Homo sapiens: one gene and its partner. The protein of the gene in region 2 purifies or fractionates together with the protein of the main gene of each other region. This does not show direct contact. Each region holds a gene or a part of one and is shown on either strand. Other genes may lie near its edges. The genes, in order: ANKRD40 and CTRL.

Region 1 (10,501 bases), on a different chromosome or scaffold from region 2:
CCATCCTGGCTAACACGGTGAAACCCCATCTCTACTAAAAATACAAAAAATTAGCCGGGCGTGGTGGCGGGCACCTGTAGTCCCAGCTACTCGGGAGGCTGAGGCAGGAGAATGGCGTGAACCCAGGAGGCAGAGCTTGAAGTGAGCCAAGATGGCACCTGGCACCACTGCACTCCAGCCTGGGCGAGAGTGCGAGACTCTGTCTCAAAAAAAAAAAAAAAAAAAAGAACCCTATCCTATCTGTGCTGCAAAGCAAGTTCAATAAATGTTAGCTATTTATGCTTCATCTCATTAAGGGCTCACAATACTCTTCTGGAACAAGTAGAAAATGAAGCATCTCAGGCAAAGTCCCATAGCTAGGCAGGAATGGAGGAGAACCTGCAGGAAAGACCAGGCTCCTTCTACACAACACCGCCTCCCAGTGCCAAAATGGTAATTCACAGCTTTGAACCAGAGGAATGCTGAGAAAAGGTTACATACACAACAGCAAGTTTGCAAAGACCTGTAAAAAAAAAAAAAAACAGAACAAAAAGGTAGTATCCACTGTTTCCTGGCCTTCTGGACAGCTGTCCAGGCTGTTTTCTTTAGGGAAATTAGGTAGAAAAAAATTTTTTTTTGAGACTGGGATCTCACTATGTTGCCCAGGCTGGTCTCAAACTTCTGGACTCCAGTGATCCTCCTGCCTTGGCCTCCCAAAGTGCTGGGATTACAGGCGTGAGCCACCAGGTCCTACCAGGAAGATAGACTTTTTTTTTTTTTTTTTTTGAGACAGAGTCTCGCTCTGCCACCAGCCTGGAGTGCAGTGGTGTGATCTTGGCTCATTTCAACCTCCAACTCCCTGGTTCAAGTGATTCTCCTGCTGCAGCATCCCAAGTAGCTGGGATGACAGGCACACACCGCTACCCCTGGCTAATTTTTGTATCTTTAGTAGAGACAGGGTTTCACCATGTTGGCCAGAATGGTCTCGAACTCCTGACATCGTGATCTGCCCACCTTGGCCTCCCAAAGTGCTGAGATTACAGGCGTCAGCCACCGCGCCAGGTCCAGGTAGGTAGACTTTTGAGGCAGTCTGGAAACCATGGTTCTGGTGCTATCATATTAATAGTTATGTGGCCTAGGGCAAGTTATTCTCTGTGGTTGAGCCTCTCTCCATTGTCCCTTTCAGTTCCAAAATGGATGATTCCACTTAAAAAAACAAAATGTAAACTCACTTTTTTTTTTTTTTGAGGTAGAGTCTTGCTCTGTCGCCCAGGCTGGAGTGCAGTGGTGCAATCTTGGCTTACTGCAACCTCCGCCTCCCAGGTTCAAGTGATTCTCCTGCCTCAGCCTCCCAAGTAGCTGAGACTACAGGCATGCACCACCACGCCCAGCTAATTTTTGTATTTTTAGTAGAGACGGGGTTTCATCATGTTGGCCAGGATGGTCTTGATCTCCTGACCTCGTGATCCGCCCACCTCAGCCTCCCAAAGTGCTACTCACTTTAACTCTAAGCTAGCAAAATAGTCTGGCTAAGCATTACCTGAATCAAAATTTTAAATTTTAAATGCAGAGAGCGGAATAATGCCACATTCAGTAACTTTCTGTTTTGACCACCAGCAACATCTTAAGATGAGACTCCTTATTTAATTGGGAAGAATTCAATCTGCAGGCAGACATCTAAAGTCTTGGGTGACATTCTGTATTTGAAATTGTAATAAGAAAACTGGCCAGGAACGGTAGGCTCACATCTGTAATCCCAGCACTTTTGGAGGCTGAGGCGGGTGGATCACTTGAGGCCAGGAGTTTGAGACCAACCTGGCCCCATCTCTACCAAAAATACCAAAAAAAAAAAAAAAAAAAATTAGCCGGGTGTGGGGGCGCGTGCCTGTATTCCCAGCTATTTGGGAGGCTGTGGCAGGAGGATCACCTGAGCCGGGGAGGTAGAAGTTGCAGTGAGCCGAGACTATGCCACTGCACTCCACCCTGGGCGACAGGGCAAGACCCTGTCTCAAAAAAAAAAAAAAAAAAAAAAAAAAAAAGAAAGAAAATAATCGATAGGATAAACAAATGAGTTTTCCCTCAAACAGGCAACTACAGGCAGCAGCAGCAAATCGGTTGCAGTGAAACAACAGAGAAGCAGAATGGTGATGCAAATGTGTTTTTTTTTCCTGGTCTTGGCTAAGGAAATCGTGCTAGTTTATAAAATTCATATTTGCTCAGTTGCTTATGCTTTTAGCTCTGCAAGATGCGTTCTCCAGAAGCACCTACGGCAAATTAACTCAACACTCGAATTGGGGTGAGCTCCAACGCATAGTCGCTGAGAATCACTGCCTCCAGCACCGCTCTGACCAAGTGAGCCGGGAGCGCGGGGGAAGGGGGTAGGGCACCAGAGTCCCAGTGGGCGCTGCCCCGAGTGGACCACGTGGGCCGGGATTTGGGCAGGACGCGCTCCCGACCGCACGAGGCATGGGGGCCAGGGCTGGCCTCAAGAGAGCACAATCTCGGAGGCCCGAGGTGGCAGGCCTCGCCGTAGCCAGGCGTCCCGCGCTGGGCCCAGGTCGCGACTGACTGCCCCACGCCTTCCGACCGGCTGCCCTGACCCTAGGCCTCCCCCGCTCCCCACTTACCAGCCGTTGACCTCATTTTGGGAGTTCACATCCACCCCGCTCTCCACCAGTTTCTGCACCTCCCGAATGTCCCCTAAGGCCGCGGCCTCCCGCAGCCTCTCCTGCTGCTCCTTCTGCTCTAGGAGGGCGTTCATCTTCCCACAGCCCCAGGCCCCCGCCCAGGCCCGCCTGCCCCGCCCCGCCCGGGGCCTGTCAGCGCCGCCGCCGTCGCCGCGGCCCGCTCCCGGCCATGGGGAGGGAGCGCGGAACTCGCCCGCCCTGCTCGCGCCGCTGCCCGCGCCCGCCCCGGGACTTCCGCTCCCTCCCGCGGGCCGCCCCTGCTGCTCCCGGCCCGCAGGCCCAGGCCTCCTCCCGGGCCGCGCCTCCCGAAGGCCGGCTCCGGGGGACCCTGTTCAGTGTGACAACGCTGACCCAGATATTTTCCGTTCCGACCCGGGGCTCCGGCGCCCGGGCTGGCTGTTTATGTAACTACTGCACAATATTATATGCCATGATTCATTGACTATTTTTAGACTTCCCCACCCCGCAGTTTCAAGGGAGGAGGACAAGACACATGAAAAGAGAAAAAAGCATAGCTGAGGGCCAGAAAAGCCTTATCCTCTGGTGCAGGCTGTTTACCAGGCATCCAAAATAATTGGTGGGTTCTTTTTATTGGGATTTGGGGTTTTTTTGTTATTTTCCCCCAGTTTGGTTGGCTCCTTTTCCTTATCTGAGCCAATTCGTGCCCAGCAGGATGGGGAAATGGGCTGAAAACGATCCTACTATAATACGCCCATTATTACAGAGATAGATTAGACTCTTCTTCTTTTTGACAGTGCTTGGGGACAATTCAGTTAGAATATTTATTTCAATTGTTGTTGTTTTACATCTCATTTTAGACAGGATTTCTTCTAACCTGGCTTTCAGGAAAAATATTTATATTGTGCTCACAGTTTATGAACTGTAATTACTGCTTACAGATTGTAATTAGTTACTCTTCATGAAGGCCATATAAGGAGAAAAGAAAGGAAAAACACCAAAGAGGCTTTGGAGGTGTCCTGGTCCTGATTCCAAGTGCTCTGGGAAGAGCTGTGGTGTACATGTAAACAGCATTTTGCTTCACTTCTTGCCCGATCTATCTAATGAGGCTCAGAGCCTCAGTTGGCACTGTTTTATACCCAGTGGGAGAAAAAGGAAATATTGTTTTGTTGAGCCCAGGTGCCCTGAAGAGATCCTCCGATGTGGCACAGGATGGAACTTTACAGATGGGGTCAAGATTAAGGAAATAGCCCTGGGGAGGAAGGGAGGAAGGCCTGAACAAGGAGAGATGAAATAGGAAGGGATAAATTTAGGCATGGAGTTTTCATTTCCGTCTCTTGGGGCTGCTGGGATCTGCACAGCAAGCATTTTTCTTGCTACAGTTTAAGAAAAACCAATGTCTGTTTGTTTAGTATGATACAGTAATTCACACAGTACACAGTGCACACCAGGTGGTGCTGAATATAAACTGACTACACACTTAAATTGACCCCCATGGCAAATTGTAACCCTGCTTGAGCTTACATTTTCATTTGTTCCCCCAATTTAAATTTTAATTCTCACATCCAGCATGATACTCTATCTGAAACTGATGTGTATGGCACTGGATTTGAGTCCTTCAACACAATTTCAGTGACATGGGAGTAGGTAGTGGCTTGTTGTTTTTGTTTGCTTGTTTTTGAGACAGAGTCTCACTCTGTTGCCCAGGCTGGTGTTCGGTGGGGCGATCTCTGAGCTCCTTGCAACCTCTAAGTCCAGGTTCAGGCAATTCTCCTGCCTCAGCCTCCCGAGCAGCTGGGATTACAGGCCTGTGCCACCATGCTCGGCTAATTTTTGTATTTTTAGTAGACATGGGGTTTCACCATGTTGGCCAGTCTGGTCTCCAGCTCCTGACCTCATGTGATCTGCCAGCCTCAGCCTCCCAAAGTGCTGGAATTACAAGCATGAGCCACCGCGCCTGGCCTGTTTTTGTTTTTTTGTTGTTGTTGTTTTTTGTTTTTAATGCAGTTAAAAAAAATTGTTCGTGACTGCACCCCAAAGTCTATGAGTTCTTTTTTTTTTTTTTTTTTTTTTGAGATGGAGGAGTTTCGCTCTCATTGCCCAGGCTGGAGTGCAACAGCGCGATCTCGGCTCACCACAATCTCCACCTCCCAGGTTCAAGCGATTCTCCTGCCTCAGCCTCCTGAGTAGCTGGGATTACAGGCATGTTCCACCATGCCTGGCTAATTTTTTGTATTTTTAGTAGAGACGGAGTTTCTCCATGTTGCTCAGGCTGGTCTCAAACTCCCGACCTCAGGTGATCCGCCCGCCTCAGCTTCCCAAAGTGCTGGAATTACAGGCATGAGCCACCGCGCCCGGCCCCCAAAGTCTATGAGTTCTCTTTATGAGAGTTTGTCAAATGTCCCTTCCTTAAAAGGATTATAGCATGTACCCTACATAACTGCTGTATCCGTGAATATTAGTAGATCTTCTTAAACTCAACCTCTACTTACTCTGATTTCAGTCTTCTGTTTATTATCTTCAGATTAAAAAAAACAAAATTTTATCCACAAACAAAACTTCTGATCTTGGATATAACTGAATGTAACCTGCTGGCTGTTCTATTACTACTTCCATTTATCTCTACTCTGTCTTGTCTCTAGGGAACTACCTAACTCACTGAACTGTATTAAGCATGTGCTGTTTGCCAGGCACTGTTCTAGTCACTGAGGATGCTGCTGCAAATGAATCAGAGTCCTTGACTTTGAAGAACAGTTTATCAGGGGAGACAAGGCGAACAATAGAATGTGCTATGCATTACAATAGAAACAATGTGGCATAGTGGTAGTGAGTGTGGAGACAGACGCCAGACTGCCTGGGTTTGTATGCCAGCTTTGCCACTCATATAATCTTGAATGAGTTACTCAACTTTCCTGTGCCTCAAATTCTGCACCTGCGAAACAGGAATAATAGTAGCACCCACCTTGCAGGATTGTTCTATGGATTGAATGAATGGATATGTGCAAAGCCTAGACATCTTAAACATTCATTGGATCATAGGTGGGTTACAACAAGGTTTACGTTAGGAAAACTTAACCTGGCAGAATGGGAGGGCAGTGGTGGTCAAGAAACAAGGATAATGTTCGGGTTTCTGGATGATTAGATGGTGGTGTGATTTATTGAGATTTGGGACAAAGGATGAAGAGAAGGTTTGAGGTTTGGTCATGAATTCACTTTTGAATCTGTTGACTTGAACTTTCTGAGACCTTTTAATTACTACTACTCTTTACTATCTGCTACTATCAACTCATTGCCAGGTGCTGCAGGAAGTGCTGTACATGGATTATCTCATTTAATCCTCACAACAACTCCTCTGTAAAACAGGACCATCATTATTATCTGAGGCTCAGGGAGGTAATTAACTTGCCCCAGTGCTGGCCAGGCACGGTGGCTCATGCCTGTAATCACAGCACTTTGGGAGGCTGAGGCGGGCAGATCACCTGAGGTCAGGAGTTTGAGACCAGCGTAGCCAACATGGCGAAACCCCGTCTCTACTAAAAATACAAAAATTAGATGGGCGTGGCGGCAGGTGCTGGAGGCAGAGGTTGCAGTGAGTCAAGATCTCGCCATTGCACTCCAGCCTGGGCAACAGAGTGAGACTCTGTCTCAAAAATAAATAAATAAATAAATAAACAAACTTGCCCAATGCTATACATCGTAGTTTGTGATGGAGCAAGGCTTTGAACTCAAGTTCAACTTCTGAGCCTGTGCTTTCTTTTCTGATTTTCATTTAAATGGATATGTTCAGTAAACAGTTATGTGAATGGGTATTGCATTTAGGAAGGAGATCTGGGCTGGTGATTTGTATTTTGGCAGTCAGCAAAGGGTGCTAGCTGAAGTCATGGGAATAGAAGAGATAGCCCCAAGGGAGTCTGTGAGTGCTGAGAGAAGACTCCTGCCAGGCGCGGTGGCTCATGCCTGTAATGCCAGCATTTTGGGAGGCGGAGGAGGGTGGATCACCTGAGGTCAGAGTTCCAGACCAGCCTGGCCAACAGAGCGAAACCCTGTCTCTACTAAAAATACAAAAAGTAGCCGGGTGTGGTGGAGCGCACCTGTATTCCCAGCTACTCAGGAGGCTGAGGCAGGGGAATCACTTGAACCTGGGAGGTGGAGGTTGCAGTGAGGCGAAATCATGCCACTGCACTCCAGCCTAGGCAACAGAGTAAGACTCTGTCTCAAAAAAAAAAAAAAAAAAAAAGACTGCTGAAGACAGCCAGGAATGGTGGTTTGTTCCTGTTAATCCCAGCTACTCAGGATGCTGAGACAGGAGGATTCCCTTGAGCCCAGGAGTTCCAGACTAGCCTGGACAACACAGTGAAACCCTGACAGTAAGACCCTGTCTTAAAATAAGTAAGTAAATAAATAATTTTTAAAAAGAAGACAGCCAAAGACTGAAGAATACAGATGGTTCCCAACTTATGATGGTTGCAGTTAGGATTCTTTTACTTTACAACAGTGCAAAAGTGATACACAAAAGTGCAAAAATAAGTAGAAACCTTACTTTGTGTAACCAAACAACTATTCTGTTTCTCATTTTCAGTACAGTATTTAATAAATTACGTGAGATATTCAACACTTTATTATAAAATAGGCTTTGTGTTAGATGATTTTACCCAACTGTAGGCTAATTAAAGTATTCTCAGCACATTTAAGGCTAGGCTAAGTTATGATGTTTGGTAGGTATATTAGTCTATTTTCACACTGCTATCAGGAACTACCTAAGGCTGGGCACAGTGGCTCATGCCTATAATCCCAGCACTTTGGGAGGCCAAAGACAGGTGGATGATCACTTGAGGCCAGGAGTTGGAGACCAGCCTGGCCAACATGGAGAAACCCTGTCTCTACTAAAAAATACAAAAATTAGGTGGGTGTGATGGCGCAAGCCCATAATCCCAGCTACTCGGGAGGCTGAGGCACAAGAATCACTTGAACCTGGGAGGAAGGGGCTGTAGTGAGCCTAGATTGTGCCACTGCACTCCAGCCTGGGCGACAGAGCAAGACTTTGTTTAAAAAAAAAAAAAAGAAAAAAGAACTACCGGAGACTGGGTAATTTATAAAGTAAAGAGGTTTAATTGGCTCACAGTTCCACATGGCTGGGGAGGCCTCAGGAAACTTACAATTATGGGAAGGCGAAGCAAGCGCCTCCTTCACAGGGTGGCAGGAGAGAGAGCGAGAGAGCGAAGGGGAAGAGCCACACTTTTAAACCATCAGATGTCCTGAGAACTCACTCCCTATCACGAGAACAGCATGGGGGAACCGCCGCCATTATCCAATCACCTCCCACCAGCTTCCTCCCTGGACACATAGGGATTACAATTTTAGATGAGATTTGGGTGGAGACACAGAGCCAAACTATCCATAGGCTAGGTGCATTAAATGCATTTTCAACCTAATGGACGTATTGGGATCTAACCCCTTTGTAAGTTGAGGAGCATCTGTAGTCAACATTTTAATGACGGACAGAAGAGAAGAAATTCTCAAATGAGAGCAGAGGAGCAGCTATTAATAGACTAGCAGGAGGAAAAGCAAAGGAGTGGGAGGGTTTGGAGACAAGGGAGTGATCCACAGGGTCAAATGCTGCAGAAAGGGCAAGAAAGAAAGGGCTGAAACACATGAAATGGGTTTAACCATCACAAGCTTGCTGGTGCCATTGAAGAGGAAAGGTGCAGTGAGGTGGTACAGGTAGCCACCAGACTTTCTTAGTCCATTTGGGATGCTATAACAAAATACCACAACCTGGGTGGCTTATAAGCAACTGAAATTTTTTTCTCACAATTCTGGAAGCTGAAATTCCAAGATCATGGTACCAGCATGGTCAGGTTCTGTCGAGGGCCCTCTTCTGGGTTGCAGACTGCCAGCTTCTCATTTTTTCCTCACATGGCATGGCAGAAGGGGCAAAGGAGCTCTCTCGGGCCTCATTTATGAATGGCACTAATACCATTCCTGAGGTCTCTGCCTTCATGACCTAATCACACCTGAAAGGTCCTGCCTTTTTTTTTTTTTTTTTTTTTTGAGACAGGGTCTTGTTCTGTCACCCAGGCTGGCACCTGACCTAAAAAACAAACAAAAACAAACAAACAACAACAACAACAACAAAAAACCTTTCATTCTAAGGGAAGAAATTGCTATTTGCAATATCGTGTGACAAACCCAAAAATATGCAAGGATGCTTCAGGTAAAATGATGGCACAAAGAAGGTGATCAGTGTGTAGCAGGTGGAGGGCCAGGGTCCAGGGTGGCGTTGTGGAGCTGCTGAAACTGGGGCTGTAAGCTGAAAGATGAGTAGGGGCTCGTATCTGTAACCCCGGCTGCTCAGGAGGCTGAGGCAGGAGTGAGACCGTCTCTGAAAAAAGGATGAGTAGGTGTTGCTTGCTGCTGGAGTGGAAGAGCTTTCCATGCCTGGAGCAACGTAGATGGTGAAATGCAGGAATCAAGGGTCTTCCAAGTACTGGAAGCAGTAGCAGATGAAGTTGGAGAAGGGGGTCAGAGCACAGACCACCTTGTGGTGTTTGAACCTTAGAGTGGAGATGATGGGGAGCCATCGCCTCTAAGGTTGGAGGCGTTTTGTTTGTTGGTTTGTTTGTTTGTTTTTTGAGACCCAGGCTGGAATGCATGGTGCCATCTTGGCTCACTGCAGCCTCTGCCTCCTGGGCCTCCAGCAATCCTCCCACCTCAGCCTCCTGAGTAGCTGGGAATAGAGGCGCGTGCCACCATGCCCAGCTACTTTTTGTATTTGCAGTAGAGACAGGGTTTCGCCACATCACCAAGGCTGGTCTCAAGCTCTGGAGCTCAAGCAATCTACCAGCCTCGACCTCCCAAAGTGCTGAGGTGTGAGCCACTGCACCTGGCCAGTTGGAGCCTTTCGAGCAGGGATGAGACACATCTAGATTTACATTTAGAAAGGTGACTGATGGCTGGGCGTGGTGGCTCATGGCTGTAATACCTGCACTTTGGGAGGCTGAGGCGGGCGGATTGCCTGAGCTCAGGAGTTTGAGACCAGCCTGGGCAACATGGTGAAACCCTGTCTCCACTAAAGTACAAAAAAAAAAAAAACAAAAAAAACAGCTGGGCATGGCGGCGTGCATCTGTAGTCCCAGCTACTCAGGAGGCTGAGGCAGGACAATTGTTTGAACCTGGAAGGTAGAGGTTACAGTGAGCCGAGATCGTGCCACTGCACTCCAGCCTATGCAACAGAGTGAGACTCCGTCTCAAAAAAAAAGAAAGGTGACTGAGGCAGCAAGATAGATGGAGGATGGGGTCAAGGGGCCCGCACTGGAGGCTGGGAGGCTGGGAAGCAGTGAGAAGACCTGTAGTAACTGCAGCTTCCTTTCTATATTAGCTTGCTAGGGCTATCATAACAAAAATACCACAGACTAGATGCTTAAACAAATGAGATTTTTATTTTCTGGAGGCTATGAGTTTACGATCTGGGTGTTGGCAGGTTTGGTTTCTCTGGAGGCCTCTGTCTTTGGCTTGTAAATGGCCACCTTCTTACCATGTCCTCACGTGGCTTTTTCTCTGTGCAAGTGCATCCTTGGTGCCTCTTTGTGTATCCAAATTTCCTCGTATAAGGACGCCAGTATGATAGGATTATGGCCCAACCTAACAGCATTGTTTTAACTTCATCATCATCTTCAAATGCACGATCTCCCAATACAGTCACATTCTGTGGTTCCAGGAATTAGGCCTCAACATATGAGTTTGGAGGTGACAGGAACACAGTTCAGCCCATAACATTTTCTTCTTTTTTGAGATGGAGTCTCACTCTGTCACCCAGGACGGAGTGCAATGGCATGGTCTTAGCTCACTGCACTCTCTGCCTCCTGGGTTCAAGCAAT
Region 2 (16,482 bases):
CCCCCATACCTGGCCAGGAAGGTTCCCTTGGGAAAAGCCATCCCCACTTCACCAAAACACGAAGTGTTCAACAGATTAAGTCTCCCTCCTTCACTGCAGGAGCCAATGCCCTCAGGCTGGATTCCTGACTAGTCACTGGGAGGTGGCATGGTTTGGGCCACTGGATGGAGGCAGTGGACCCTCAGTTGGTCACTGTGGCTGGGGACCTGCCCTTGGTTGGAGACCTCTGGCAGGAAGGCAGAGGAAGCTCTCTCCATGTGAGGCCAGAGGAAGCTCTGAGTGGAGAAGAGCAGCAGCCCCATCTTGTGTCACCTCTGTGCCACCACTGGGCTCCCCAGAGCCCTGTCCTCTAGGTTTCCCTTTGTCACTGCTGCCCTGGTTGCATACACCCCAGAAAGCAGCAACTTCCCTGTAGTGGCAGGAGCAGACCCACCCGCCACGCTGCTGCATTCAGCCGTTCCTGCTGACCACCCATAGCATCACGTCACCCTGGGTCACAGCTGCCTTTCATCACTTTTTCCACCTCCAGCCCTTGAGGCCTGGCCAACAAAGAGCAGGGTGTGGTGGCTTGCACTCAGAGCCATCCCTGGTGCGTCAGCCATCCCCTCCCTCTCCTGTCTTTTCATTGTCTGTCTCCACCTGGAGAGCACTGCCTTTCACAGGCTCTGTCGCTTCTGGGCCCTCAAGTTCCTCTGGGAGCTGCTGGACTGTATCTCTCCCACATTCTGACCTCTTTATTTATTTATTATTATTTTTTAATAGAGACAAGGTCTTGTTGTAGAGGAACAAGAGTTGGAGTGCAGTAGTGTGATTATAGTTCATTGTAACCTTAAACTCCCGGGCCCAAACCATCTTCCTGCCTCAGCCTTCCGAGTAGCTGGGATTACAGGTGTGGGCCACCACACCGGGCTAATTTTTTAGGTTTCTTGTAGAGATAGGGTCTATGTTGCCTAGCCTGGTCTTGAACTCCTGGCCTCAAGTGATCCTCCTGCCTCGGCCTCCCAAAGTGCTGAGATTAAAGGCGTGAGCCACTGTGCCCAGCCCTGACCTCTTTAGATCCACTCATAGCATCCCATGCTCATCCTCCTCCCACACCTACTGAGGTGGAGGCTGGCTCTCAATTGCATGGCATAGCTGATGGTGACCTGGTCCAGCCATCCTCACTGGCTGTGCCTCTCCAAGCTCACCTTCCCTAGTCAGTCCTCCCATCACACAAGGTTACCCTTCTCCATCGTGCCTGACGTCCCTCGGTAGATGTGTGGTGCCCAGAGAGCTCTGCTCCCTTGTGGCCCAGCCAGCTTGGAGCAGAAGGCTTAGTCACATTCATCTCTTCATTCTTCCTCCATCCCATATTGACCTACCACTGGCCCTAAGCCTGGGGTTCCAGGGACAGAGACTGCAGTGTGGATGAGATGGTTACAGTCACTGAGCCTCCAAACTGCCTCAGAAATTAGGATGGGAGGAAGTTAAAAAAAAAAAAAAAGGCTGGGCACGGTGGCTCACACCTGTAATCTCAGCCCTTTGGGAGGCCAAGGTGGGTGGCATCTGAGATCAGGAGTTTGAGACCGACCTGACCAACATGGTGAAACCTCATCTCTACTAAAAATACAAAATTAGCTGGGCATTGTGGTGCATGCCTGTAATCCCAGCTACTTGGGAGGCTGAGGCAGGAGAATTGCTTGAACCCAGGAGGTAGAGTTTGCAGTGAGATGGTTCCATTGCACTCCAGCCTGGGCAACAAGAGCAAAACTCCGTCTCAAAAAAAGAAAAAAAAAATAATGCCAGGTGCTGTGGCTCACGCCTGTATCCCAGCACTTTGGGAGGCCGAGGCGGGCAGATCTTGAGGTCAGGAGATCAAGACTATCCTGGCTAACACGGTGAAACACCGTCTCTACTAAAAATACAAAAAATTAACCAGGCATGGTGGCATGCACCTGTAGTCCCATCTACTTGGGAGGCCGAGGCAGGAGAATCGGTTGAACCTGGGAGGCGGAGTTGCAGTTAGCTGAGATTGCACATCGCGCCACTGCACTCCAGCCTGGGTGACAGAGTGAGACTCTGTCTCTCTTAAAAAAAAAAACAAAAACAAAAATCAAAAAACCAGGCTGGGCCCTGGGAACCACTTGGCCTCAGCGGAACCCTTGATGAGTGTAGATAAAAGAGATCACGCTGCAGCAGGCTTCTAAATCTGGAACCTTCCAGGGCTACTCCAGGACATTGTTAAAAGCAGACATCGCTATGTTGGTGGCACAGGCCTATTGCAAAGCGAGCAAATAGCATCCTTCTCGATCTTGAGTTGTGTCCTGTCTCTCTCCTCTCCTTCCCCTCCACTCTGGCTCTGGGCAGGGACAGGTGGGGGCACACGATTTCATTTTGTTATCCATTTCAAGTTTCAGAACACAGCTTTACTAACCTTTAAGTTGTCACACCTTTTCTCATTTTAATCTTTATTCTCTGCTTTTTTTTTTTTAATTCTCTACTTGTTTTTAAAACTGCATTATCTTCCCTCTATTTCTCTCCTCAGGCTCTCTCCCCCCACACCCTTCCCTTTTCTGTTGCTTGCCCCTCACCCGCCCTCTGCCGAGTCCCAGGGTGGTAGATTCTGTCTGGTCTGGAAGCCCAGGCACCAGGATGATGGGTTTTTGACCACAGGAGGGGATGCTGGCTCTGCTGCCACACAGTGTCTAATTCTGCTGATGCTCTTCGTCGTGGGCAGCATGACAGGGTGCCGTTCTTGTTGTCATGCTGCTTTCCTGAGTAAACTCAAAGCTCTGTTTCCAGAATTTCCTCTGTGCCCTTTTCTCTGCTCTCATTCAGGCCCACGTAAGTACAGAAAGGAGGCCTTTGAAGGTGGGAATAGTGGGTCTGAAAATACATCTTGAAATAGAGCTGAGGGAAGAACTGAGTCATGGTAGCAAAGCCCAGGCTTCTTCCTCCCTTCCCATCCCTTCTCTAGAAGCACTGTGGTGGGGCCACCTCCTCTGTCAGCCAGCCTGCCCCAGAATCATCATTGGTTAGATAAGGAACCCAGGGCTCAAGAGGTCAGCTTAAATGCTAAACTCTGCGCTTCACATGTGGCCACGTGAAGGAAAAGGTGGAGAAAAAGGAATCCAGGAGTTTATAAACTGGAAGGGACTTAGAGTTCATGACATTCAGCCCCTTCCTCGTGTTAAAAGTGAAGGCGGTGTGATTTCTCTAAGGCCGACAGAGAAGGTAGAACTAGAACTCAGGTTGCTGGGCTTGCAATCTAACCCTTTAACGTATCCCAGATGCCACTCAGAAGACACACCAAGGGGCCTTTCTCTCCCAGCCTCACTTGCCAGTAGGCAGCCCTGCCTGCCAGAGGAAGTCTAGGGCCGCCCTGTAAGCTGTGTTTGCTGCCAGAAAGAAGCAGCTTCCTCCTCTGTCTGCAGCCTCTGCTAGAGAGCTGGCGCTGTTCTTTGTTTCATTAGCCCTTAGGCTCCAGGTGAGACCGCTGGCAGTGGCTTGGGTAGTGTTCATGCCAGGCCCTTGTGCCAGACATTAGAGCTAGAGCAAACGAAAAGGGTTGGTGCGGGGGGTCCTCAGGCGGGAGCGGAAAGCCCTTCCTGCTGTGCTGCCTCTCCCTCTCCAGGGGGAGTAGGACTCCACTGCCTAGGAGTGGCTTTGGCCCAGCATGGGTAGGGGGATGAGGAAGGCTAGTTGGTAAGGAGGTGCTCACGGAAGAGGTCGCTTCCCATACCCATTATTGGCATCTTTGCTGTTCCAACATCAGGAGCAGGTACCCTAACTGCAAGGGGAAAAGGACTCTTTTGAGGGCCATGGACTCAGGAGGAAGGCAGCCAGCTTGATGGTCAGAATCAGAGCAGAGGTGATGCCCTCCTCCTACAGCCCCTGCTTGTCTTCCTCTTGAAGCAGGACCCAGCCCTCACTCACGCAGCAGTGTCTCGAAGTGCTGGGATTAGAGGTGTGAGCCACTGACTTGCCCAGAGACTGTGGAAAGGAGAGAGTGGAGGCTGTCACCCTGGGTATGGAAGCTGTTCTCTGATCCCAGAGCAAGGGAAGACCTGAGAGTCTGGGCGTAGAGCCAGCTGACATCTTAGTGTTTCCCTCTGTGCCTCGTGCTCCACGTCGGCCCAGAAGCAGGTGGAAGCCTCAGAGACTGCCCAGGTGGGTCTTGGCACCTGTGCCATCTGTCAGCCAACTGAGGCCATGTGTGTCCCTGGTATGGCTCAAATAAGTATACTGAGGCACGAGTTCAGTTCTTCACCTAGAACAAACAGAGTTGTGGAGACTGAAGAGCATGACTATTCATCATTTTCCCTTTTCTCCTGCTTAGAATGCTTCCCAGCCAGTCAGCCCTTGGCTGACACACATACTTACGTGGCTCCAGGGGAAGCAGGTGGGTTGGGCTGCTGGCGTTGAGTGCTTTCTTAGGAGGTGCTGAGTTGATGTGAGGCCTGAAGCCTGGCTGTGGGCGAGTGTGGAAAGCCTTACTTTTCTAAGCCCTGTGGGAGGCCTCAGCAGGGCTTCCAGAGGCTGCTATTCTGAAGGTCACCCTAAGCCCCTGCCTCACTGTCAGCTGGATGAGGACCACCTTCTTGTGTTCAGCCTGACTTTCCTCTGTGTACAAGGGTTAGGCTGGGGACCAGTTCAGGACGACTTGAGTCACTTTGGCTTGGGGGACCCACCTGGCCTAGCTGCTCACAGCTCTTCAAAGATGGGAAGAGCTGGGACCTGCCAGAGAGGCCAGGCCAGCCCTCAGACAAATGAGTCCATCTGCATTCTGCGCACAGCCACATGCCCACAGTAATTGGTGAGGCGAGAATCTTGGGGAGCAGCGGGGAGAGGGATCAATCTGGCTCGCTTTGGCACTAACAGGCCGGCCGCTCCATGAGCAGCAGGGGTTGATGCCTGCTGGTGTGAGCCTGTGCCACTCTGAAGATGGAGACACTTAAGACCATAGGGCTGGTCTGGGGAGAGGCCCCTCCAAGACTGCACTGGTGACTGGTTTGGAGTTTCAGGTCCACGGTTTCGCTGGGTGTGGATGTGAAGTGGTGAAACCTCCAGTCCATCCATGTTCAGGCTCCTGGCCTCTGTAGGGGAGTTGCCCCTCTTTTGTCTTGGCTGGACCAAGGGGCAGGGGCAGAATCCATTTCCCAGCCCTGTTGGGACACCCTGGGCTGTCAGCCCTGTCTTGGGGCTGTTCCAGCAACAGGCCAGACTGAGCTGCAGCCTGCTTCCTAGTGAGTCCTCCTCTTCCTGGAGACTGTAGAAGGCCAGCAGGCAGCAGAGGTGTCCCCTGACCCACTCTGTTCAGCTGTGTGTGTGCTGTCTCCATCAAGCTTCTTTCTGTCTCTCCGGTGGGTGATGGGGGCTACAGTGAATGTCTGTGGTCTGGACTGGCTGCCCCCAGTAGTGGTTCCTTGTGTTCAGGAGGCAACCATGGAGCTTTCTTTTTTAAAAAAAAATTTATTAATTTTTTTTTTTCTTTGAGGCGGAGTCTTACCATCTTTCCCAGGGTGATCTTGAACTCTTGGGCTCAAGCAGTCCTCCTGCCTCAGACTCCCAGAGTGTTGGGATTATAGGCGGAAGCCACTGCTCCTGGCTTTTGGGGTTTTCTTGAGCTGTGATCCAAAAGCTATTGTGGCAGCTGTCTAGTCCAGTTGCCCTGCATATTGGCCTTAATACCTCAATATGAATATTTTTTTTTTTTTTTTGAGACGGAGTCTCGCTCTGTTGCCAGGCTGGAGTGCAGTGGTGCGATCTTGGCTCACTGCAACCTCCGCCTCTCAGGTTCAAGCAATTCTCCTGCCTCAGCTTCCTGAGTAGCTGGGACTACAGGCACGCCACCACGCCCGACTAATTTTTGTATTTTTAGTAGAGACGGGGTTTCACCATGTTGGCCAGGATGGTCTTGATCTCATGACCTTGTGATCCACCTGCCTCAGCCTCCCAAAGTGCTGGGATTACAGGCATGAGCCACCACGCCTGGCCCTCAATATGAATCTTGAACTACACAAGCCCCCAGGAGACTTACCTGCCTGTCGGGGAGGGCTGTTGCTCTCTGCGCCCACCCACAGCCCTTGGATAGTAAGGCATCTATGGGCCTTCGTTGGCTGCATGCTCCTGGACCCTGACTTTCCTCCTCCTGGGGGCCAGCATCTCCCCAGGAGTCACTGGGTGCTGCTGGCCCACTGATGAGGATGACCCTGTTAGGTGTGTTTGGGAATATGGTTCCCCTGTTGCTCCCACTTCAGCTCAGTAAAACTTGGAATAACCTTCCAAAGAGTGGGTGAAGACAGCAGCTGCAGGTAGCCCCAGGCCTTCCTCAGGACGGTGGAAGCGTGTTCTCCCTGCCTCATCCCTCTGTGGCAGTGGGGAAGGGGGTAGGGAAAGAGTTGGAGGTCAGGCGAGCCAGACTGGGAGTAGCAGTAGTCAGTGAGTGTGTGTGTCTGCTAGATGGCTGTGCACCTGCCCTGAAGGTGGTCTCTCAGATCCTCCTGAACCCCCTGGAGGGCATGTTCAGGGGTTCCTCAAGGTGAAGGGTACCATGGGTGGTGAAGGGTACCATGGGTGGAACAGGCAGACCTCACCTGGCAGGAAGGAAAGTGAGGGGATCGTTAGCATCCCTGTTGAGTCATCTGCAGCAGGCTCAGGAAAGGTCCTAGCTGCCTATCCTTGGGGGAGCCTCAGAGCCCGTGCCAGAAGTGTTCCTAGGAGATGCAGGGACGCAAGGACTCACCTGGCTGAGCCCCAAGGCCTGGAAGCAGCTCCAGGAAAGGGCACCCATCCGGCAGCACCGTGGGTTGTTTACTGTCTGAGCCTGTGCCTACTGAGTGCTTCCTGTATGCGCAGCACCAGGCACGGGCTCATCCAGCTCAGCATGATCTCATGGGAATACTAAACGAACATGAAATTGCAGTCTCACGTTACAGCTGGAATAATTGCTGGAAGCACTGGGGGCTAAGAGGGAGTCTGAGCAAGTGTCCTTTACCCTGAGAACCTGAGGATCCAGTCAGGTGAAGACAGCCGTACAACCTGAGGCCCTGAGACAGACAGCTGCTGGGTTCGGGGCTGAGATGAGGCAGCCCGGGGTGCATGTGGCAGAGTGGGCTTTATGGAGTTCCTCCCAGGGGACAGAATGTACTAAAATGAGGCTGGCGCACAGCACTGCCAGGAGCCCTTTGTGGCTTAGAGAAGTAATGCGGGCCAGAGGGTGCCACTGAGAAGGGTCCTGGTTCCTTCCTGGTCCCGGGATCGCCTGCCCTCAGCCGACTGGGAAATCTAGTTGCCTTGAATTGTTTCCTTTCCTCCCCATGCCGGGAGGCAGAGGCAGGGAGCAGTGGTCTTCTGCCACTGCTTCGGCAGTTGGAGAGAGGTTGGATCTTCTCTGTAAGGACTAGGAAGTTCCCCTTTAAGTAGCCTGATCCTGGTCATCCAGAGATTGGAGCTTCAATCTGACTTAGGATGTGGTGGGAAAGTTTGAATCATTCTCTAACAGTCCCCTGAGTTATGATACTCCTGGGACAAGTTCGGGGGGGTCTTGGCAGAGGCCATCTCCCTGAGCCAGGCTTTGGGTCCAGTGCACCATAGAATTTGCTCCCTGGGAGAGTGCACAGGTCCTTTCCTTCCTTGCCAGACTCCATCACCTGGAGAGCAGCCCTTGTTCAGCCTGAGCCAGCGTTGGGCGGGGAGGCCCCAAGTGCTACATGAGAGGAGGGGCAGCACCTCTCTCTGGAAAGGGGAGGGTTGCTGAGTAGTGGCCTCATCCAGATGGGGTGGGCAGTGTCAGATGCTCTCACTCTAATGCTTGTCCTTGGTCTCTAGCCCTGGCCTAGTGTGTCCAACCTGGCCAAGGACTTCATTGACCGCCTGCTGACAGTGGACCCTGGAGCCCGTATGACTGCACTGCAGGCCCTGAGGCACCCGTGGGTGGTGAGCATGGCTGCCTCTTCATCCATGAAGAACCTGCACCGCTCCATATCCCAGAACCTCCTTAAACGTGCCTCCTCGCGCTGCCAGAGCACCAAATCTGCCCAGTCCACGCGTTCCAGCCGCTCCACACGCTCCAATAAGTCACGCCGTGTGCGGGAACGGGAGCTGCGGGAGCTCAACCTGCGCTACCAGCAGCAATACAATGGCTGAGCCGCCTGGCTGTGCACACATGCAGCACGACCCAGCCTGGCCACACACTGTGGTGCCATCTGGGTCCGATGCCCTCTCTGGAGATAGGCCTATGTGGCCCACAGTAGGTGAAGAATGTCTGGCTCCAGCCCTTTCTCTGTGCCTTCAGCAGCCCCTGTCCTCACCATGGGCCTGGGCCAGGTGTGACAGAGTAGAGGTAGCACAGGGGGCTGTGACTCCCCCTGAACTGGGAGCCTGGCCTGGCACTGATACCCCTCTTGGTGGGCAGCTGCTCTGGTGGAGTTGGGAAGGGATAGGACCTGGCCTTCACTGTCTCCCTTGCCCTTTGACTTTTCCCCAATCAAAGGGAACTGCAGTGCTGGGTGGAGTGTCCTGTGGCCTCAGGACCCTTTGGGACAGTTACTTCTGGGACCCCCTTTCCTCCACAGAGCCCTTCTCCCTGGTTTCACACATTCCCATGCATCCTGATCCTTAAGATTATGCTCCAGTGGGAGACCCTGGTAGGCACAAAGCTTGTGCCTTGACTGGACCCGTAGCCCCTGGCTAGGTCGAAACAGCCCTCCACCTCCCAGCCAAGATCTGTCTTCCTTCATGGTGCCTCCAGGGAGCCTTCCTGGTCCCAGGACCTCTGGTGGAGGGCCATGGCGTGGACCTTCACCCTTCTGGACTGTGTGGCCATGCTGGTCATCGGCTTGCCCAGGCTCCAGCCTCTCCAGATTCTGAGGGGTCTCAGCCCACCGCCCTTGGTGCCTTCTTTGTAGAGCCCACCGCTACCTCCCTCTCCCCGTTGGATGTCCATTCCATTCCCCAGGTGCCTCCTTCCCAACTGGGGGTGGTTAAAGGGAGCCCCACTGCTGCTACCTGGGGAATGGGGCACCTGGGGGCCAAGGCAGAGGGAAGGGGGTCCTCCCGATTAGGGTCGAGTGTCAGCCTGGGTTCTATCCTTTGGTGCAGCCCCATTGCCTTTTCCCTTCAGGCTCTGTTGCTCCCTCCTCTGCAGCTGCACGAAGGCGCCATCTGGTGTCTGCATGGGTGTTGGCAGCCTGGGAGTGATCACTGCACGCCCATCGTGCACACCTGCCCATCGTGCACACCCACCCATGGTGCACACCTGTAGTCCTCCATGAGGACATGGGAAGGTAGGAGTTGCCGCCCTGGGGGAGGGTCCCGGGCTGCTCACCTCTCCCCTTCTGCTGAGCTTCTGCGCACCCCTCCCTGGAACTTAGCCATACTGTGTGACCTGCCTCTGAAACCAGGGTGCCAGGGGCACTGCCTTCTCACAGCTGGCCTTGCCCCGTCCACCCTGTGCTGCTTCCCTTCACAGCATTAACCTTCCAGTCTGGGTCCCACTGAGCCTCAAGCTGGAAGGAGCCCCTGCGGGAGGTGGGTGGGGTTGGGTGGCTGCTTTCCCAGAGGCCTGAGCCAGAACCATCCCCATTTCTTTTGTGGTATCTCCCCCTACCACAAACCAGGCTGGAACCCAAGCCCCTTCCTCCACAGCTGCCTTCAGTGGGTAGAATGGGGCCAGGGCCCAGCTTTGGCCTTAGCTTGACGGCAGGGCCCCTGCCATTGCAGGAGGGTTTGGTTCCCACTCAGCTTCTGCCGGTCGGCAGCCTGGGCCAGGCCCTTTTCCTGCATGTGCCACCTCCAGTGGGAAACAAAACTAAAGAGACCACTCTGTGCCAAGTCGACTATGCCTTAGACACATCCTCCTACCGTCCCCAATGCCCCCTGGGCAGGAGGCAGTGGAGAACCAAGCCCCATGGCCTCAGAATTTCCCCCCAGTTCCCCAAGTGTCTCTGGGGACCTGAAGCCCTGGGGCTTACGTTCTCTCTTGCCCAGGGTGGGCCTGGTCCTGAGGGCAGGACAGGGGGTTTGGAGATGTGGGCCTTTGATAGACCCACTTGGGCCTTCATGCCATGGCCTGTGGATGGAGAATGTGCAGTTATTTATTATGCGTATTCAGTTTGTAAACGTATCCTCTGTATTCAGTAAACAGGCTGCCTCTCCAGGGAGGGCTGCCATTCATTCCAACAGTTCTGGCTTCTTGCTGTAGGACCAAGGGGTTGCCCTGGAGGAGGGGTGGGGGCCCCGGCCTCGGCATGGCTACTCTAGGAAGAGCCACTGCTACTCAAGGAGTCACTCAGCCCCTTCTGTGCCAGAAGTCCAAGTAGGGAGTCGGACCCTCAACAGCCTCTTCTTTCTCCTGAGCCAGGAAGACAGACATGAATGCATGATGGGACAGGGCCTGGGTCTTTAATGGGTTGAGCTGGGGAGGGCCTGTGGTGAGCTCAGTTGTAGGCTATGACCTGGTTGATCCAGGTGCTGAACTTGCTAACTCGAGTATACACAGCAGGTGCGCGCACATTGCAGTTTTTGGTGCCCCAGGAGACAATACCAATAAGCACCCATGTGTTTCCCTTCTGGCAGACAAGAGGGCCTCCGGAGTCACCCTGAGAGGGAAGAGGGAGGGAGAATTGAGTAGGGGGGGTTGGGGAGGTATACCACAGGACAGCGCAGAGGAGCGGGTGCTGGGGCTTACCTGGCACGAGGAGGCACCTGCGCCACCTGCACAGATCATGGAGTCAGTGATACTTGAGCCCCAGTACTGCCGGCACTGATTCACAGTGACCAGGGGCAAAGCCACCTGCTGCAGATGTGCTGGTGTCACATTGCCTGTGGGCCAGGAGGGGTGGTCACATGGGGCCCAGAACACTGGTCCCCACCCCAGTCCTCCCACCCTGAGCTTTGGCCTGAGTCCCTACCCACGCCACTGAGGCGACCCCAGCCGGTGGTGACACACGTGAGGCCTTCAGTCAGAGCCTCGTTTGAGGATGCCAGGCAAACTGGCGAGATGCGTGTTGTGTACTGGGCTGGCGAGGCGAGCTTCAGCAGCGTCACGTCATTGTTCATGGTGGTAGAGTTCCAGCTAGGGTGTGTAATGGCCTGTGGGGTCAGAAACAGTCCATGTTCTGATGGGTGCTGAGCAGGGTAGGCCAGGGCATGTCCTGAATTCCTCGTTCCCAGCACCCACCCACCTGCACTGCCCACTTTTCCTCCGTGTCTGCAGCCCAGGCACTCACCCGAGAGACGGACAGAACCTGCAAGGGCTCTGCGTTTGATGATCGGTCATACTCGCCCAGGACAACAAAATGGCGGCCAGGGCTGCAAGGGGGTGGGATTAGGCAGCTGCAGGGAGGCCAGCGCGAGAGGGGGACAGCCAGGGGAGGAGGCAGGAAGAGGCGAGGGGCGGGGCAGGTGGAATGCAGGCACTCACCTGACATTGCAGTGGGCAGCAGTGACCACCCAGGACTGGCTGATGAGAGAACCACCGCAGAAGTGGAAGCCGCTGCTGTCCTGTGGTCAGGGCTCAGAGGTCAGAGTGGGGGTGGGCTGCTGAGGCTGCCCCTAGGCATGACGTACCCAGGACCCTGCCCACCCCTCTGGTGGTGTACCTGCAGGGACACCTGCCAGGGCCAGGAGCCCAACACTGCATTCTCCCCGTTGACAATCCTCTGGCTGAAGCTCAGTGCCGGTTTGATGGCAGGAATGCCGCAGCCTGGCCATTGGGCTAATGAGGACCTGCTTCCCATGCCTCAGCCCATCTTTCCCCACCTCCTTTTGGGTGCCCCAGGCTGTGCACCCCAGAGAGGTCTGTCGAGAGGGTACAGCACTACCCCTTCCCCAACAGGGTACATGCAAGCACCTTCGGGCCCCACAGCTATCTTGGTTATCCCTATCCACCCAGTCCCCCAGCCCTGCTGTTCTCCTACATCTGTCTCCAGCCTAGTCCCCGCTGTTCCCCATCTCTACCCCTGGTCTCTCTGCCCCCTCCCGACCTGAACAGTTCATACCCTTCATGCAGCCAGAAGGTTCTTTCTAAAAGACATGGACAGGTCTTCCTGTCTCAGCTTCCTAAACCCTCCCGGGCTCCAGGGCCTGGCTCAATCTCTGGTCCTATTTGTGAGACCACCCCACCTCTTGCCCCCTCCCAGCCCTGCAGGCCTGTTCCCTGCTCCACTGCCCTGGCATATCCTGTTTCTTTTGCCCACTCTGTCCACCTTCGTCCCTTCCAGCCAGCCTAGCTCCTTCCCTGGGCTGTTGCTGGGAGCTGAGTTGCTCCCAGGGCTGAATCAGGGCTGGTCCTGGCCCACTCACCCCAGGAGGAGCCGAGGAGAACCAGGCTTAGGGTCAGGCTGAGCAGCAACATCGTGGCAGATGTGAGGTTGGGAGCTGGGTCTGGCTTTATGGGTCTTCTCGTCCTTGAGCTAAAGCTCCAGGCCTGAGGCCAGGCCAGCTGTGTAGACTCAGCCCCCTCCCACGCTCCAGGCAAGACAGGCCCTTTAGGCCAAGGTCCCCTGACCGAGACCTAGACTTATCAGACAGAGCCCAGGTGTGAGACTCACCTCTGCCACCTCCCAAAGCCTGGCCTCTAATTGGCTCCCAGAACCACCTCCCATTCCAAATGTTGAGCCCTCGGTACTGAGGACAGATGGTTAAATTAGGTCTATAGTGACAACCTGGTGGCTGGGATCACAGGAGTCACCCAGGGCTAACAAAGGCACCAGGCTTTCAGAGAAGGCCGCTCAGCGTCCAGGGTGTTCTGACTGGTGGATGGAATGCTCACTGCGGTCAACTTTGCTGTGAAGGGCCAGGGGCTGTGAGGTTCTGGCAGGCTGGGAGTCCTAACACATCATCGCAGTGGTTCCTCGTCCATTTGGAACAGGAGTCACAGGTCTGCTCAGAGATGGTGACTCTCCCACCAGCACGTGGTTGAGTTGTACACAAACTCGCATTTGTCTGGCGCTGAAGCCTCCGCTCTTAACAATGAGATGATACTTATGAAGGGCCTGGCATTTAGGAGGGCAAAGTGTGAGCTCTTGGTGCCTGGCCGACCGTGGACTGAGGCTGCAGGTGGAGAGTGACAGACATCAAATCTCTGCCACCCTCTTTAGGCCTTGGGGCTCCCATGGGCAAGCCCCTGGTGTCTGTAGCCCATTTGTTACTGAGCTGCAGACCAAGCTTGAAGGGAGAAGACACCCTGTGTGCAAAGTTCCAACAGGTGCATTGGCTGGCGGCCTTCTGGGAGTGTGAGGGCTTTAACTGATTCAAGAACAGATCAGGGCTGGGTGTGGTGGCTCACACCTGTAATCCCAAAACTTTGGGAGGCAGACGTAGGAGGCTTGATTCCAGGAGTTCGAGACCAGCCTGAGCAACATCATGAAACCCTGTCTCTACAAAAAAAATTTTTTTAAATTAAGAAATGAGCTGGGTATGATGGTACACACCTGTAGTCCCAGCAACTCAGAAGGCTGAGGCAGGAGGGATCACTTGAGCCCTTAAGTTCAAGGCTGCAGTGAGCCATGAGTGCACCACTGCATTCCGGCCTGGGCGATGGAGCTAGACCCCATCTCAAAGAAACAGCATCAGCCAAAAAATGAGATGAATTGGCTGGGCACGGTGGCTCACGCCTGTAATCCCAGCACTTTGGGAGGCCGACGCGGGCGGATCATGAGGTCAGGAGATCAAGACCATCCTGGCTAACAGGTTCAGTAGAAACCTCGTCTCTACTAAAAATACAAAAAAAAAAAAAATTAGCCGGGCGTGGTGGCGGGCACCTGTAGTCCCAGCTACTCGGGAGGCTGAGGCAGGAGAATGGCGTGAACCTGGGAGGCGGAGCTTCCAGTGAGCTGAGATTGCGCCACTGCACTCCAGAGCCTGGGTGACAGAGCGAGACTCCGTCTCAAAAAAAAAAAAAAAAAAAAGGAGCGATGAATTAATGGATAGAGGGATGAATAGATGATAAAACAAATATAACAAAATATTTGCACTCCAGAGCCTGGGTGACAGAGCGAGACGCCGTCTCAAAAAAAAAAAAAAAAAAAAAAAAAGGAGCGATGAATTAATGGATAGAGGGATGAATAGATGATAAAACAAATATAACAAAATACTGTCAGGTCTGTGGTGACCTGACAGTATAAGGGTATTCAATATACAACTCTTTCTACTTTTCTGTTACATTTACAAATGTTCATTAATAGAATGTTGGGGTGCAGGGAGCACACTCAGCGGCCTGGGGATGTGCAGCCCGGCATAGACCCTCCCTGGGCCCTGGGTAGACTCTCCCTGACATTTCTGAAGCTCCAGCGGAGTTCAGCCGTTCTCGCTGAGGACAGGATGCTCTTGCTGGCACCCAGCAGCCAGGCCTGAGACTCAGCAGGGGCCCAGCAAAGGTTTGTTGGAGAAACGTGTCATCTCTCCCCATGTGAGTCCTGTGACCCTTATTAGCCTGGAAAACTTGGAGTCACAAGCCCAGCATGTGCAGACAGAAGACGAGCTTCACGTGAGCAGTGCAGGCATGCCTCGTCATCTAAGGGGTGTCACAGGTAAAGATGTTGCGAGGTTGAGGAGTGCTTGGTGAGAACTTGCCTTGGAGTCAGGGAGCGGCTCCTCTTGTCAGCACTTTAGCCCTCAGTGGGGCCTGTGGGGGCCTGATTGAAAGGTATGAGCTTTGTCCTGGGCCACTGAGGAGCCATGGAAAGTCTCTAGGAGGGGGTAGTACATGGGGTATTTCATAATTTACAAGTCTCCAGTGGACTAGAGGGCAAGAGCAAGACAGTGGAGTGGTGGGGGAGCCTTCAAGTGTGGAGTCAGAAGGAAGGTTTGGGTGGAGACCAAGCCTGCAATGCTGGCCAGGGCTGGGGTTCTGGAGTTGTAGGTGCCTGAGGTTATGGGTGAAGGGCATCTCTTAGGCCAGACACTAGAGCTATGGTAGGTAATGGCCCCTGCAGGGACGCCTTAGCTACAGAGCCCTGCTGGCTGCCTGCCCACCCCATTCCACTCAAGAATGACACAGCCATCTGTTTAACTGTATTTTCTGGGTTTATTCCCCCTTGTTCCAAGCTCTAAGCCTCAGCTTACTCCACCTCCATAGCCTGCACAGTTTCCTCCACTAGCTCCAGGGTTAGTGGCTTCACTGTCTGGGTCAGGACAGCTGTGGTTCCAGGCACAAAGTGGTAGCGGCCAGACCTGGGAGGGAGGAGGGACAGCCTCTGAACATGGGCCTGTCATGTGGCCCATCCCCTTTTTGCAGCCCCCTATCTCCCCTGCTATAGCCCCACACATCCCTGTGGTCCCCGATCTCCAGCTCTCACCTCTTCACGGGCTCTGTGGGTGAGCTCAGTGTCCGCAGCAGCTTGGCGCCAGTCTTTGTGATCACACATGCGTCCACATTGCCCCCGGAGCCCAGGTCACCCAAGATCCCGGCGGTGACGGCTTCCACCAGCAGCCCCTGAGCAGCCTCCAGCTGCGGTGATGGGTGTGTGAGACCTAACGGGCTCTCTCTGCTGTTAACTTAGGCTACAGCCTGGGGACTTGCCTGTCCACTTACCCAATCTGGTCTTGCCCTCCAAACCCCCACTGTGTTTCTCCCTCTGAGCCTTAGCCACCTCTGAGGCAACATCACCTGCTTCCATCCCACCCCAAACAAAATCTAGGCTCCAGACGTTGATATAAGTAGGACCCTACTGGTCCTTCTCTCCGCCCTCGGCTCCTAAAGATCCTCTGTGAGCTTCGACTTCTCCCAGCCGTGCAGGCTTTGGTATTGGACGGTGTTATGTCGGGACCGCACTTCTCTGCCCTTACTCCACTCACCCTTCAGTGGTCACCTCCTCCGACAAGCCTTAGCCACCCGCACTGGGCCAGGGTCCTGTGCTCCCCCAGCTCCCGGGTGCACATCCCACCAGCGACCACAAAGTCGGGGACAGAGGCCGCTCACCGTCATGTTCGGCTGGAACCGGTCTTCTAGCACCGCCAGGGCCGCGTCCTGACCAGAGCCTGAAGGCAGGAGAAGCATCTGAAGTCAACCGCTGCGACGCCGTTTGGAGTGAGGCCAAGGTCACAGGGGCAGAGTTCGAGGAGAAGGGACAGAAGCGCTCACCCAGGGCTGTGAAGGGCAGACGGCTGTAGGAGCCATGGGGATGCACACCGTAGAGCTGCGGTCCAGTCAGGTCTACGCCGCCCACGATCAGCGATGCACCCACGTGGCCCTGGTACCTGCTCGAGGATGGGCGGGGTCGGCCACAAGCTGGGGCCTAGGCCCCACCTCTCTATGCCCAGCTCCTAGGTGCTATCCCCGCCCCTTCCTGTGGGCTGGCGCCCGATGACTGACATCGCCTTTTCCTGTAGCCCAGGTTCTCTTGGGCCGGCCTCTTCCGGTCACCTGGCCCGTCGCGGTCCCGCCCTTCTTTCTGTCCCGCCTTCCAATGGCCCCAACCCCGTAACTACCCCTGCCGGGGTCCTGTTAGCCCTGCCCCCGCACCTGAAGAGCGTCTGGCGCAGGATGCGAGTGACCGT

Evidence for each region.
Region 1: the proteins of CTRL (region 2) and ANKRD40 purify together in Homo sapiens (affinity purification with mass spectrometry; 3 studies listed by BioGRID and IntAct, with this or other methods). This does not show direct contact.

The regions. Positions count from the first base shown.
Region 1 is NC_000017.11:50,704,915-50,715,415, forward strand, and holds the start of ANKRD40 (ankyrin repeat domain-containing protein 40), read right to left. Parts: upstream 3,001-10,501; 5' UTR 2,741-3,000; coding exon 2,607-2,740; intron 1-2,606.
Region 2 is NC_000016.10:67,919,516-67,935,997, forward strand, and holds CTRL (chymotrypsin-like protease CTRL-1 precursor), read right to left. Parts: upstream 12,348-16,482; 5' UTR 12,338-12,347; coding exon 12,286-12,337; intron 11,687-12,285; coding exon 11,583-11,686; intron 11,485-11,582; coding exon 11,405-11,484; intron 11,293-11,404; coding exon 11,211-11,292; intron 11,074-11,210; coding exon 10,893-11,073; intron 10,804-10,892; coding exon 10,670-10,803; intron 10,581-10,669; coding exon 10,419-10,580; 3' UTR 10,059-10,418; downstream 1-10,058. Other genes in the region: PSKH1 (serine/threonine-protein kinase H1), read left to right, coding at 7,810-8,127; PSMB10 (proteasome subunit beta type-10), read right to left, coding at 15,045-15,156, 15,282-15,433, 15,905-15,963, 16,067-16,182, 16,448-16,482.